2 separate regions of the Homo sapiens genome follow, and region 1 is linked to region 2. Evidence: fine-mapped expression QTL. A gene starts in region 2. The other region holds a variant in brackets. All regions are shown on one strand. Distances are between the middles of the regions. Region 1 holds the start of LOC101929566 (a long non-coding RNA gene). Region 2 holds the start of FLYWCH1 (FLYWCH-type zinc finger 1).

The links. PIP is the estimated chance that this variant, and not a neighbour inherited with it, causes the effect. A credible set is the group of variants that fine-mapping cannot tell apart.
Region 1: its variant is the best candidate, but not a certain one, in a credible set for the expression of FLYWCH1 in whole blood (INTERVAL, PIP 0.60).

Annotation. Positions count from the first base shown.
Region 1 is chr16:2,863,466-2,868,840 of GRCh38, forward strand. It overlaps LOC101929566 (a long non-coding RNA gene), which reads right to left and starts at 4,739. Exons shown (of 3, transcript NR_188573.1): 1 at 4,627-4,739; 2 at 3,996-4,064; 3 at 2,883-3,391. RefSeq lists enhancers at 4,543-4,662, 4,763-4,942, 4,953-5,022. The variant C/T (reference allele first, on the strand shown) is at 2,404.
Region 2 is chr16:2,908,736-2,914,110 of GRCh38, forward strand. It overlaps FLYWCH1 (FLYWCH-type zinc finger 1), which reads left to right and starts at 3,196. Exons shown (of 10, transcript NM_001308068.2): 1 at 3,196-3,419. RefSeq lists silencers at 2,947-3,006, 3,057-3,366, 3,387-3,536, 3,567-3,666, 3,640-3,829.

The sequences.
Region 1 (5,375 bases), 45 kb before region 2:
CTGGTCTCAAACTCCTGACCTCAGGTGATCCACTGGCCTCAGCCTCCCAAAGTGCTGGGATTACAGGCGTGAGCCACCGCGCCTGGCCGAACATTACACTTTTAACAGCTTAGTATTATATCTTCAGTGCCTGTCAGTTAGTGGCCTCCCAATATTGTTGAATCAATTGATGAATTAAGTGAAACACCATTTATAAATTTTTACTTAATAAAACAAGCTACAAATTATATTCTTTTTTTTGGATATTATTGGAATCATACTGTGACATTATCTTAATCTGCTTTTAAAATTCAATATGGCATCTTCTCATATCAGTAAACCATTCATAACATGATTATTAATGTCTATATAATATTCCACTATAGAATTGTTACGGTTTGGATGTGTCCCCAAAGTTCATGTGTTGGAAACTTAATCCCCAAAGCAAGAATGTTGAGAGGCGGGACCTTTCCGAGGTGATTAGGTCATAAAGCTTATGCCCTCCTGTATGGATTAATGCCATTATTTTGGGAGTGGGTTGGTTATCATGGGGTGGGTTCCTGATAAAATGTATGAGTTCCACCCCCTTACTCTCTTATGTATATGCTCTCTTGCCACGTGATGCCTCCCGCCATGTTATGAGGCAGCAAGAAGGCCCTCATCAGATGCAGCCCCTCAATCTTGGACTTCCCAGTCTCCAGAACCATGTGCCAATGAATTTCTGTTTATTATAAATTACCCAGTCTCAGGTATTCTGTACCTGAGCAACACAAAACAGACTAAGACAACAATATACCATAATTTACTCAATCCCATGCCCTCTGATACTGGACATTCATTCTTTTTTCTGTTGTATGTAATGTGTCAGTAAGTAACCTTGTTCATCAATCTTTGAAAGAATCTCTGGTTATTTCCTCAAGCTACATTCCTAGAAGGGAAATTGCTAGGATAAAGGTTTTAAATGTATTTACAGTTTTTGATGACATATATTATCAAACTACACTCTTGAAAAGTTATGTAGTGCCTAGGCATAATAGCTCACGCCCATAATCTCAACACTTTGGGAAGCCAAGACAGGAGGATCGCTTGAGGCCAGGAGTTTAAGACCAGCCTGGGCAACATAGCAAGACCCTGTCTCTACATAAAAATTTTTAAAAATCAGCTTGGTGTAGTGGTGCACACCTGTAGTTCCAGCCACTTGGGAGATTGAGGCAAGAGGATTGCTTGAGCCCAGGAGTCCACGGTTGCAGTGAGCTATGATCGTGCCACTGCACTCCAGCCTGGGCCACAGAGTGAGACCCCGTCTAAAAAAACTAAATAAAAGAGATAAAACTTGTATGTGATTTGTTTTTCTTCCCTATCTTTACCATAGAAAAATAGGATCCAAAAATTTCCGCAAATATCCTGGTAGGACTTGGAAACTCAGTCTTTCTTGCCCTTGAAGAAAAGAGAACTAGTTTTTTGGTTTTTAATGATTTGGTGTCAAGGTCTGCTGTAAAAGAGGAGAACAGTGGCTTGAGGACAGAGAAGACAGGAAATACCTCACCTAGACACCTAGACACAGGAAGGAGGAAGGATTTTCCAAAGCACAAAAGAGGGGAGAAACTGAAAACTTAGGAAAGTTCTCTGAGGGGGGCATTGCTCAAACATCCAGGAGCCCCAGGGAGCCAAGGCCCCACTGGTTGACCTCAGGCTTGAGGTTCAAGGGAGTGCCCAGGGGTGCTTCACTGATCAGAATCTGGCCCCCATCCATGCCTGCCCTGCCCAGGGCTGTACTACCAACGTCCACTTGCTCCCACACCTGGTACTCCCATGCTCCCCTAAGCAAGGCAGATTTTCAGCTCTGGTAGAGCCAAACTGAATGTCAACTGTAGGTTGATAAACAGCCATTTCCCCAAGTCCCCAGGTGCCCCTTACTGCCCAGCTGCTCCAGGCCCTCCACTATCCTCAAAATCTAACACTTAAAGAGTGAATGCCTGTTTTCACACAGGGCCTCCAGCATCTCCAGCAAGACTGTTCTGATTGTCTCATGCCTGTAAAGAGCTGGTTGTTAAATATGTGGGTCAGTGCAGAAACTGACCTGAATAAGTCCCAGGCTCCCTGGGCTGGGATCCTCATTTCTCTTGCTTTCTCCTAACCTGATTAACTGTGAGCCTTTACAGACTTGCTATCTATAGGTCCATGGTCTCTCTCAGGGTACATTGTACCAGATCCACAGTTTGCAGGGCTGAAGCCACCCCGGGATCATCTGGGCCTCAGTTCCAAAAACTGTTTGCTACTATACTCAACACACCACCTCGCTTCACCCTTCTTATTCTGCCCCAAGCATTGTCTTCCCCACTGTACACATGAGGAAATTGGCTCAGAGAGGGAGGAGTTGATCCCAATTCACATGGCTAGGAAGTAGAAAGGCCAGGACTCAAG[C/T]AGAAAGGAAGTAGAAAGGCCAGTCACAGGGCCATTTTAAGACCTTGATAAGCCTGGAGCATTCTCAGCTTTGAAGCCCCCATCACATGGCTTCGAACACATGAGCATGCACCTCCCTCTGCAGAATAAATGCAATGGACCCACAACCGTGTGCTCTGAGTTGCACTGGACCAGTGGACATAATTATGTCTAGGAGACATTTAACAAACAACTATGTAATTCAACTTGGCAACTCCATTTCCTATTTCAGAGTAAGGATAATTTTCCAGGACTCAGACATTTTTGTAAGCCCTACATTGCTGTAATACCAAAAGCCTACAATACGTTGAAACTTTGGTCTTCTCAAAGCATGCCCAGCTCCTCCCCTTCTCTCTGCAGTATAATCCCCATTTTACACACAAGGAAACCATAACAGGGTGCCTCTGGATACAAATAGCAGAGTACTCCGACTCACAATTGCTGAAGCAAAATAACATGACTCTATTATTGTGACTTTATTATTCCAGGAAATGCTTGCCCAGAAACACAAAAGTTGCAAATAACCTTACTCCTTGAGTTCAGGAAAATCCATTAATAAAACCACACAGCTCTTCAACAGGGAGCATCAAAGAAAGCTCCAAGAGTCTTTGAAGCCCTCACTTCACTGTGACCACCAATACAAAACTGTGACCAACAATCCTAAACTATTATAACATGATCCTTACCCAGCCCTGATTAAGTCCGACATCAAAGGACCTGCCTTAAACCAAACCCCAAAACCTCAGTATCTCAACTTTGCCCTCCCGACCTCCACTCTACAATGACTCTTTCAAGGTGGTGCTTCCCCTTAGCATAAGCAACAACCCAGTTTTGTCTTATCAGCTGCTTGCTTTGATGCTATTTCCAGGAGCCAGCATTTGAAGAGGGAACCAGGACCAACACGGTCGGCTGTGTCCAATGAGGTAGGATGAAGCACTGGAGTAAATTTCCCTGGAGAGGTGCGCACTGCCTGCCAACAAGAAAGGGGAAAGCAGTGAGCTGAGATCGCCCCACTGCACTCCAGCCTGGGCGTCAGAGTGAGACTCTCAAAAAATAATAATAATAAAACATTAAAAAGGCGGGGGAGGGGGGGCGGGGGGGGTACCGGAGAAGCAGGCGTCAGTGTTCTACTACAGTCCCACAGTAGTAGAACGTAGTCATGGTGTCTTTGCTATTCGTGCTGAATAGCTGGTGTTTTCCAAAGTAAGTATAGAATTAACTATACTTATTATTATTATTATTATTTTTCTGAGACAGTGTCTCGCTCTGTCGCCCAGGTTGGAGTGCAGTGGCGCGATCTCCGCTCACTGCAGGCTCCGCCTCCCAGGTTCACGCCATTCTCCTGCCTCAGCCTCCTGAGTAGCTGGGACTACAGCGCCCGCCACCACGCCCGGCTAATTTTTTGTATTTTTAGTAAAGACGGGGTTTCACTGTGTTAGCCAGGATGGTCTCGATCTCCTGACCTCATGATCCACCCACCTTGGCCTCCCAAAGTGCTGGGATTACAGGCGTGAGCCACCGCGCCCGGCCAACTAACTTATTTTCAAAATAAGTATAGAATTAACCAACCATACCTCCTTAATTGATGGTTCTCTTAATCTTGATTCCAAGGGTCTTAACTATCTGGATGTACTCATTGTATGCTAAACAGACACCAAAAGGATTGACTAATCTCATTTTTATGTACAGAGAATCAATTCCCGAAAAATGCTGCAGGTTTTGCATTTGTTTTAAAATTTTAAAGGTCATAATATTTATTAATACATATTTATACCCTTAGAATTCCCAATCTGGCAGCAAATAGAGTCCCATTCTATTATGCCATTGAAAGTAATGATAAAAACCGCAGTTACTTTTGCACCAACCTAATAAAACCATGATTAAAAAAATAATAAACATTTAAAAAGCGGTGGGGGGAGTGGGGCGCGGGGGCGAGCCGGAGAAGCAGGCGTCAGTGTTTGCTAAAGAAACCAAGGCCCAGAAGAGAGTTAAATGTTTTGCCCAAGGTCAGGCAAAGAGTTGGCAGGAGGTCTAGAGGAGAATTCAGGCTTCCTCATCTAAACTCCAAGCTTTTCCGCCCAAGCAGGGCATGCCCTGGGGCCAACCCCTCCAGGAAGCCTGGGTAGTGTCCTTCCCTGCATTTCCCCAGTGGCTGCTGCCTCAAGGTGACTCAGAAGGAAGCTGTTGTCTCTAGTTCCTCCTCACCAATCCAGCTGGTCTTAGGATCGGGAAAAAGATAAGCTAATTGTCTGGTGGTTAATTAACTCCAGCCAACTAATGATCTGAACTTGCCGCGGATACCCAGCCAGCGGAAGTGCGGTTAACTGCCCGAGGGATGCCCCGAACACCGGCCGAGCCAACTTCCGGCCGCAGAGGCTGCCGGGCAGGGGTTATGGCGGCCGCCAGAGTGAGCCAGCTTGGTGTCCGGGGACACTTGGGGCACTGCGGATGGACAGCGCTGGTTTTCAATACCAGGGACCTAAGTCCGGGTGGGGAGCGGCCCCTCAGCGCCCCAGACCCCTGCCACGGTGCCGGTGACGGGCCACGCCCAAAATATCAGGAAAAGCGTCTCAGTCCTCCTTGTGGGCGGAGAAGAGACCCAGCGGCCGAGCCCGGGGGCCTCAGATCCCCAGCTGCTCATTGGCCTGTGTCTGTCGCCCCCCGGTGGCCGCGTGAGGGACTGGAGCCCGGCTTTGCTCCTCCCGTTGGCCTCGTTTCTCTTCCTGGCTTTGCGTGTCCCGACCACTAAAAGCCCCAAACATGACGAAGTAAAATGGGCACCGTCAAAAACCGCATTTGAAGACAGTGCGCATGAGCGCATGGTTAAGTTTTCAGACGTTTTGCAAGCTGGATGTTAAATACATTTTTTGACGTCATTGTTAAAAAATAAATTTTATGAGCCTACAATTAAATACATTATATTAAAAACAAAGGTAGACGCCTGCGCGGTGGCT
Region 2 (5,375 bases):
GGCAAAAGAATATTGAAAAGGAATAACAGGCAGGACGCAGTGGTTCATGCCTGTAATCCTAGCACTTTGGGAGGTCAAGAGGGCAGATCACCTGAGGTCAGGAGTTCGAGACCAGCCTCGCCAACATGGTGAAACCCTGTCTCTACTAAAAATACAAAAATTTAGCCGGACGTGGTGGTGGGTGCCTGTAATCCCAGCTACTTGGGACCCTGGGGCAGGAGAATCACTTGAGCCCGGGAGGTAGAGATGGCAGTGAGCCAAGATCGCACCATTGCACTCTAGCCTGGGCAAGAAGAGCAAGACTCCGTTTCTAAATAAATAAATAAGTAATAGATACATCAATGGAATAGAATCAAGAATCCAGAAACAAACCACATTTATGATCAATTGGTTGTCAACAAGGGTGCCAAAGGTAGGGCGTGGTGGTTAGCACTTTGGGAGGCTGCGGCGGGTGAATAACTTGAGCCTAGGAATGTAAGACCAGCCTGGGCAGGATAGGGAAACCCCGTCTCCACAAAAAAAAAAAAAAAAAAAAAAAAATTAGCCGGGTGCGGTGGTGTGCACCTGTAGTGCCAGGTACTTGGGAGGCTGAGGCAAGAGGATCAATGGAACCCAAGAGTTTGATGGAAGCTGCAGTGAACTGTGATCTCACCACTGCACTCCAACCTGGACGACTGAGGGAGATTCTGTCTCAAAAACTAAACAAAACAAACGAAGAAACAAAAACAGCATCCTGGCCGGGCATGGTGGCTCATGCCTGTAATCCCAGCACTTTGGGAGGCCAAGTCGGGCAGATCACCTGAGGTCAGGAGTTTGAAATCAGCCTGGACAACGTGGTGAAACCCCGTCTCTCCTAAAAATACAAAAATCAGCCGGGCATGGTGGCGCACGCATGTAGTCCTAGCTATTGGGGAAGCTGAGGCGGACAATCTCTTGAACCGGAAAGCAAAGGTTGCAGTGAGCCAAGATAGCGCCATTGCACTCCAGCCTGGGCATCGCAGTCAGACTCCTCTCAAAAAAAGCTGGAGGGGCTGGGCGTGGTGGCTCACGCCCGTAATCTCAGCACTTTGGGAGGCCGAGGCGGGCGGATCACAAGGTCAGGAGATCGAGACCACGGTGAAACCCCGTCTCTACTAAAAATACAAAAAATTAGCTGGGCGCAGTGGCAGGCGCCTGTAGTCCCAGCTACTCGGGAGGCTGAGGCAGGAGAATGGCGTGAACCCGAAAGGCGGAGCTTGCAGTGAGCCGAGATGGCGCCACTGCACTCCAGCCTGGGCGACAGAGCGAGACTCCGTCTCAAAAAAGAAAAAAAAAAAAAAAAAGCCGGGCGTGGTGGCAACTGTCTGTAATAATCCCAATCCCAGCTGCTCAGGAGGCTGAGGCAGGAGAATCACTTGAACCCGGGAGATGGAGGTTGCAGTGAGCTGAGGTCGTGCCACTGCACTCCAGCCTGGGCGACAGAGCAAGACTCCATCTCAAGAAAAAAAAAAAGTAATTAAGTTCTGCTACTATTTTATTTTTGAACAGGGTCTTGCTCTGTCGCCCAGCCTGGAGTGCAGTGGCATGAGCGCAGCTCACTGCAGCCTCCAGCTCCCAAGCTCAAGTGATCCTTCCACCTCAGCCTCCTGAGTAGCTGGGACTACAGCGCATCACCACATCCAGCTAATTTTCTCTTGTTCCTCTTTTCTTTTTTTCTGTAGAGAAAGAGTCTCACTATGTTGCCTAGGCTGATCTCAAACTCCTGGGCTCAAACGATGCTCCTGTCTCAGCCTCCCAAAGTGCTGGGATTACAAGCAAGAGTCACTGTACCCGGCCAACATGGATGAACTTTGAAAGTGCTATGCTAAGGCTAGGCGAAAGAAGTCAGTCACAAGAGACCACATATTTGTTGCATGATTTCATTTATATGAAATATGCAGAATACGCAAATCTATAAAGACAGAAAATAGATCATATTACTTAGGGCTGGGGTGATTAGCAAATTGGAGGGTGGTGGCTAAAGGTTTCTTCTTGGAGTGATGAAAGGTTTTAAAACTGACTATGGTGCTGTTTGCACAACTCTCTGACTATACTACATATCATTTAATTGTACACTTTAAATGGGAGAAATGCATGGTATGTGAATTATATTTCAATAAAGATCTTACCAAAAAATAGTAAGCTGATTGTGTTAACATAGTTTTATGAAAAAGTACAATATTTTCCCAAAGAAATTTAGTGAGACGAGTGACATAGTTATACATTTTTGCAAATATCTTTGTTGCGGGCTTAAAAGAAGACTACTGGCTCTCATACCTGCTTCTACATTCAATGTGTTACATCACACGTCATGCAGACTTTGTAATACTATGTAATATTTCTGCTTTTTTTTTTTTAGACACAGTCTCACTCTGTCGCCCAGGCTGGAGTGCAGTGGCGCCGTCTCGGCTCACTGCAACCTCCGCCTCCCGGGTTCAAGTTATTCTCCTGCCTCAGCCTCCCGAGTAGCTGGGATTACAGGCGCCCAGTACCACGCCCGACTAATGTTCGTATTTTTAGTAGAAACGGGGTTTCACCATGTTGGCCACGCTGTTCTCGAACTCCTGACCTCAGGTGATCCACCCGCCTCGGCCTCCCAAAGTGCTGGGATTACAGGCGTGAGCCACCGCGCCCGGCCCAGGTATTTTTTTGTCGTTGTTGGCTTTCTGATGTAAGAAACAACTGTCCCTTCTCCCCCGTTGACTTATTTCCTTCAGTTTGGACTCATATCGTAGTCAAGGTTATAATCCGTTGCTATCGCTGTTTATTTGAATCTCACACTGGTTCCGCTCTGGGGTAGGGTCACTGGGGGCGTCAATGAGATGCATGAGAATCGCCTTCCCACGGGGTCAGGAAACTGACAGGCCCAAGAGTGCATCTCAGCAAACGCTCCGTTTCCTGCGGGCAGCCTCAGATACTGGGGACCGTCCTGGGGTCTCAATTAAGCGCCCCCTACCCCAGCCCCTTTACGCCAAGAGCGTCCTGTTCAGCTCCCCCATCCTAGCTCCGCCCCTGGACGCCGCCGTCCAATCTCGGGATGGCCCCGCCTTTTCCGTGAGTTACGTCCCCGCCCCCATGCGCTGACAGGCCAGGCCTGCGGCTCGGCGCCGCGCAGGGAAGACCCGGAGCAGCGGTTTACCTAAGGAACGGGCCGCGCGGTCTTGCTGCGCATGCTCTGAAGTAGCGCGCCTGAGCGTTCCGCAAGGCCGGCTCCCCGGCGGGGTCGCGCGCGCGGTCACGGGGCTCGCTCCCGAGGGGCAGGTCGGGGCTGGGAGCTGGTGCCCGGGTCGGGGTGGCGGCGGCGGCCTGGGTCGCGGGGTCGACGCTCGCTGCTGCAGCGGCAGAGGCTGAAGGATCCGCCGCGGCGCTGTCGCGGGAGAGGGAGGGCCCCGCTGCCGTCGGTGAGGACAGGCCCCTGCGGGCGGGGAATGTCCCGCGTCCCCGGCGTGGACGCGCCCGCAGCCCGGCTCTCCCGGGGGTCCCGAGGGTTGCGGGTGCTGGGGAGGGGTCTGCGTCCCGGCGCTCAGGCCGCCTCCTGTGGGGTCTCCCGCGATTCCCTCCTTGCTCCTCGCCCCTCCATCCCCACCCCCCCGTCCCCTGGCCTAAGCCCGACACCCCCACATCAAGGATCCCCGCACTCGTCCGCCGTTTCCTGGCGGTGTCTGCCCCGCCCAGCGCTGCCTTCCTGGACCCGCAGCATCAGCCCCGTCCCACGGTTGCAGCTCGGGCGGTCCCAGTGACCTTGCACTTTTGCGGGTCGGGACGCACCCCGCTCCCGCTTCTGACCCTATAGATCTCCGGTGACGGCTTTCGAACTTTGTTGACCCACAGCCGACACTGAGAAATGCCTTTTACGCGTGTACTCTGTGCCTGTGGGTCTGGATGACTGAAGCACAAGTTTAAAGGGAGACGCTTGTTTAAGCTCACATGACGCAGCTGGATCTGTTCGGATTAAATTCCGTTCCATTCTCTTCCACCCCGTTCCAAAAGGCTGCTGCTAACCCATGGAGCCTGCACATAACGGGTCTGACGTAGTTGAAACCCTCGCTCTAAACCCTGCCTGTTGTTCCTTTATTCCTTGTACTGGAAGCTGAACTCCCATAGTCAGATAATCATGTGCAAACTCCAATTCCAACGAAATGGCTTATTTTTATTTGCATATTTCTGCTTTCCAAGGGCCAATATGATTTCCAGGGCTTGATCTAGATTTTCTCGTGTGATTATATCATGTTTCTCTTGTTCCTTTCCCAAGTGCTACTGGCGGGACGTGTGGAAGGAACAAGGCTGAGGTTGGGGCTAGATTGCGGAGTGTTTATGACGCCCAGCTGATGATGCACTAAGGCTGGAGATGGAGATGATTTAATTGGGGAGAGACATGCTGAAAGTTAAGCTTTAGGAAGAGTGACCTGTCAGCACCCTATGTGGAGAATTGGAGTGGCTGCTTGCCAAAGCTGGCAAGATCGTTCAGAGGCTTTGGCTTGGGCTAAAGAGGTCGTGGTAAGGGATCATGTCCTGAGTTGGTGGGAGTGGGAAGGAGAGGGAAGATGGGTATATCAGGCATAGAGGGAGAGAGATTTGAGGATGCATTAGGCTGTGGGAAGGAGTAAATAAACTTATATTATGATGGAGGGTGACTGGGGAATACCGGGCTGGGGGGGTCTCATTGGCCAAGCTCTCCCTTTCTGTGCGCTCTAATTTCTAAGTTGCTTTGGAGCTGTGGCTCTTGGGCAATTCTGCACCCCAGGGAACGTTCTGCAGTGTTGGTGGTCACAACGTGTGGTAGGGCATGACAGTGGGATCTGGCAGGTAGAGACCGGGGTTGCTGCTGAACACCCCACGCTGAACAGGACAGCCTCCCACAGCAGAATCATCCGGCCCAAAATGCCAACGGTGCTGAGATTGTGAAGTTCATTTTTAGAGTAAATTTTAATTATCTGGGCATCTCTGCCACCTTCAACCTCTTCAGGAGGAATGTCTGTGTGCACCCACTGAGCCTGTGATGTCACCATAGTGGTTCATGTCTGAGGCAAGTGCACCTCCAACGCTCATGGTTCAGTTGCGGGTAGGTGGGAGGTGGGTAGACACTGGAGTCATCCAGGAGCTTTAAAAAAAAATTTTTTTAGTAGAAATGGTGGGGGCGAGGGGCAGGTCTCACTATGTTGCCTAGGCTGGTCTCGAACTCCTGGGCTCAAACAATTCTCTCACCTGAGCCTCCCAAACTGCTGAGATGACAGGTGTGAGCCACCGTGCCACCGGCCCATTCAGAAGCTTTTTAAACAGAGGGCCTTCCCTCCTCCCGCTCCTATCACTCAGGACCCCTACTGCACCTGGATGCTGAACACCTTGTTCTTGTCTAA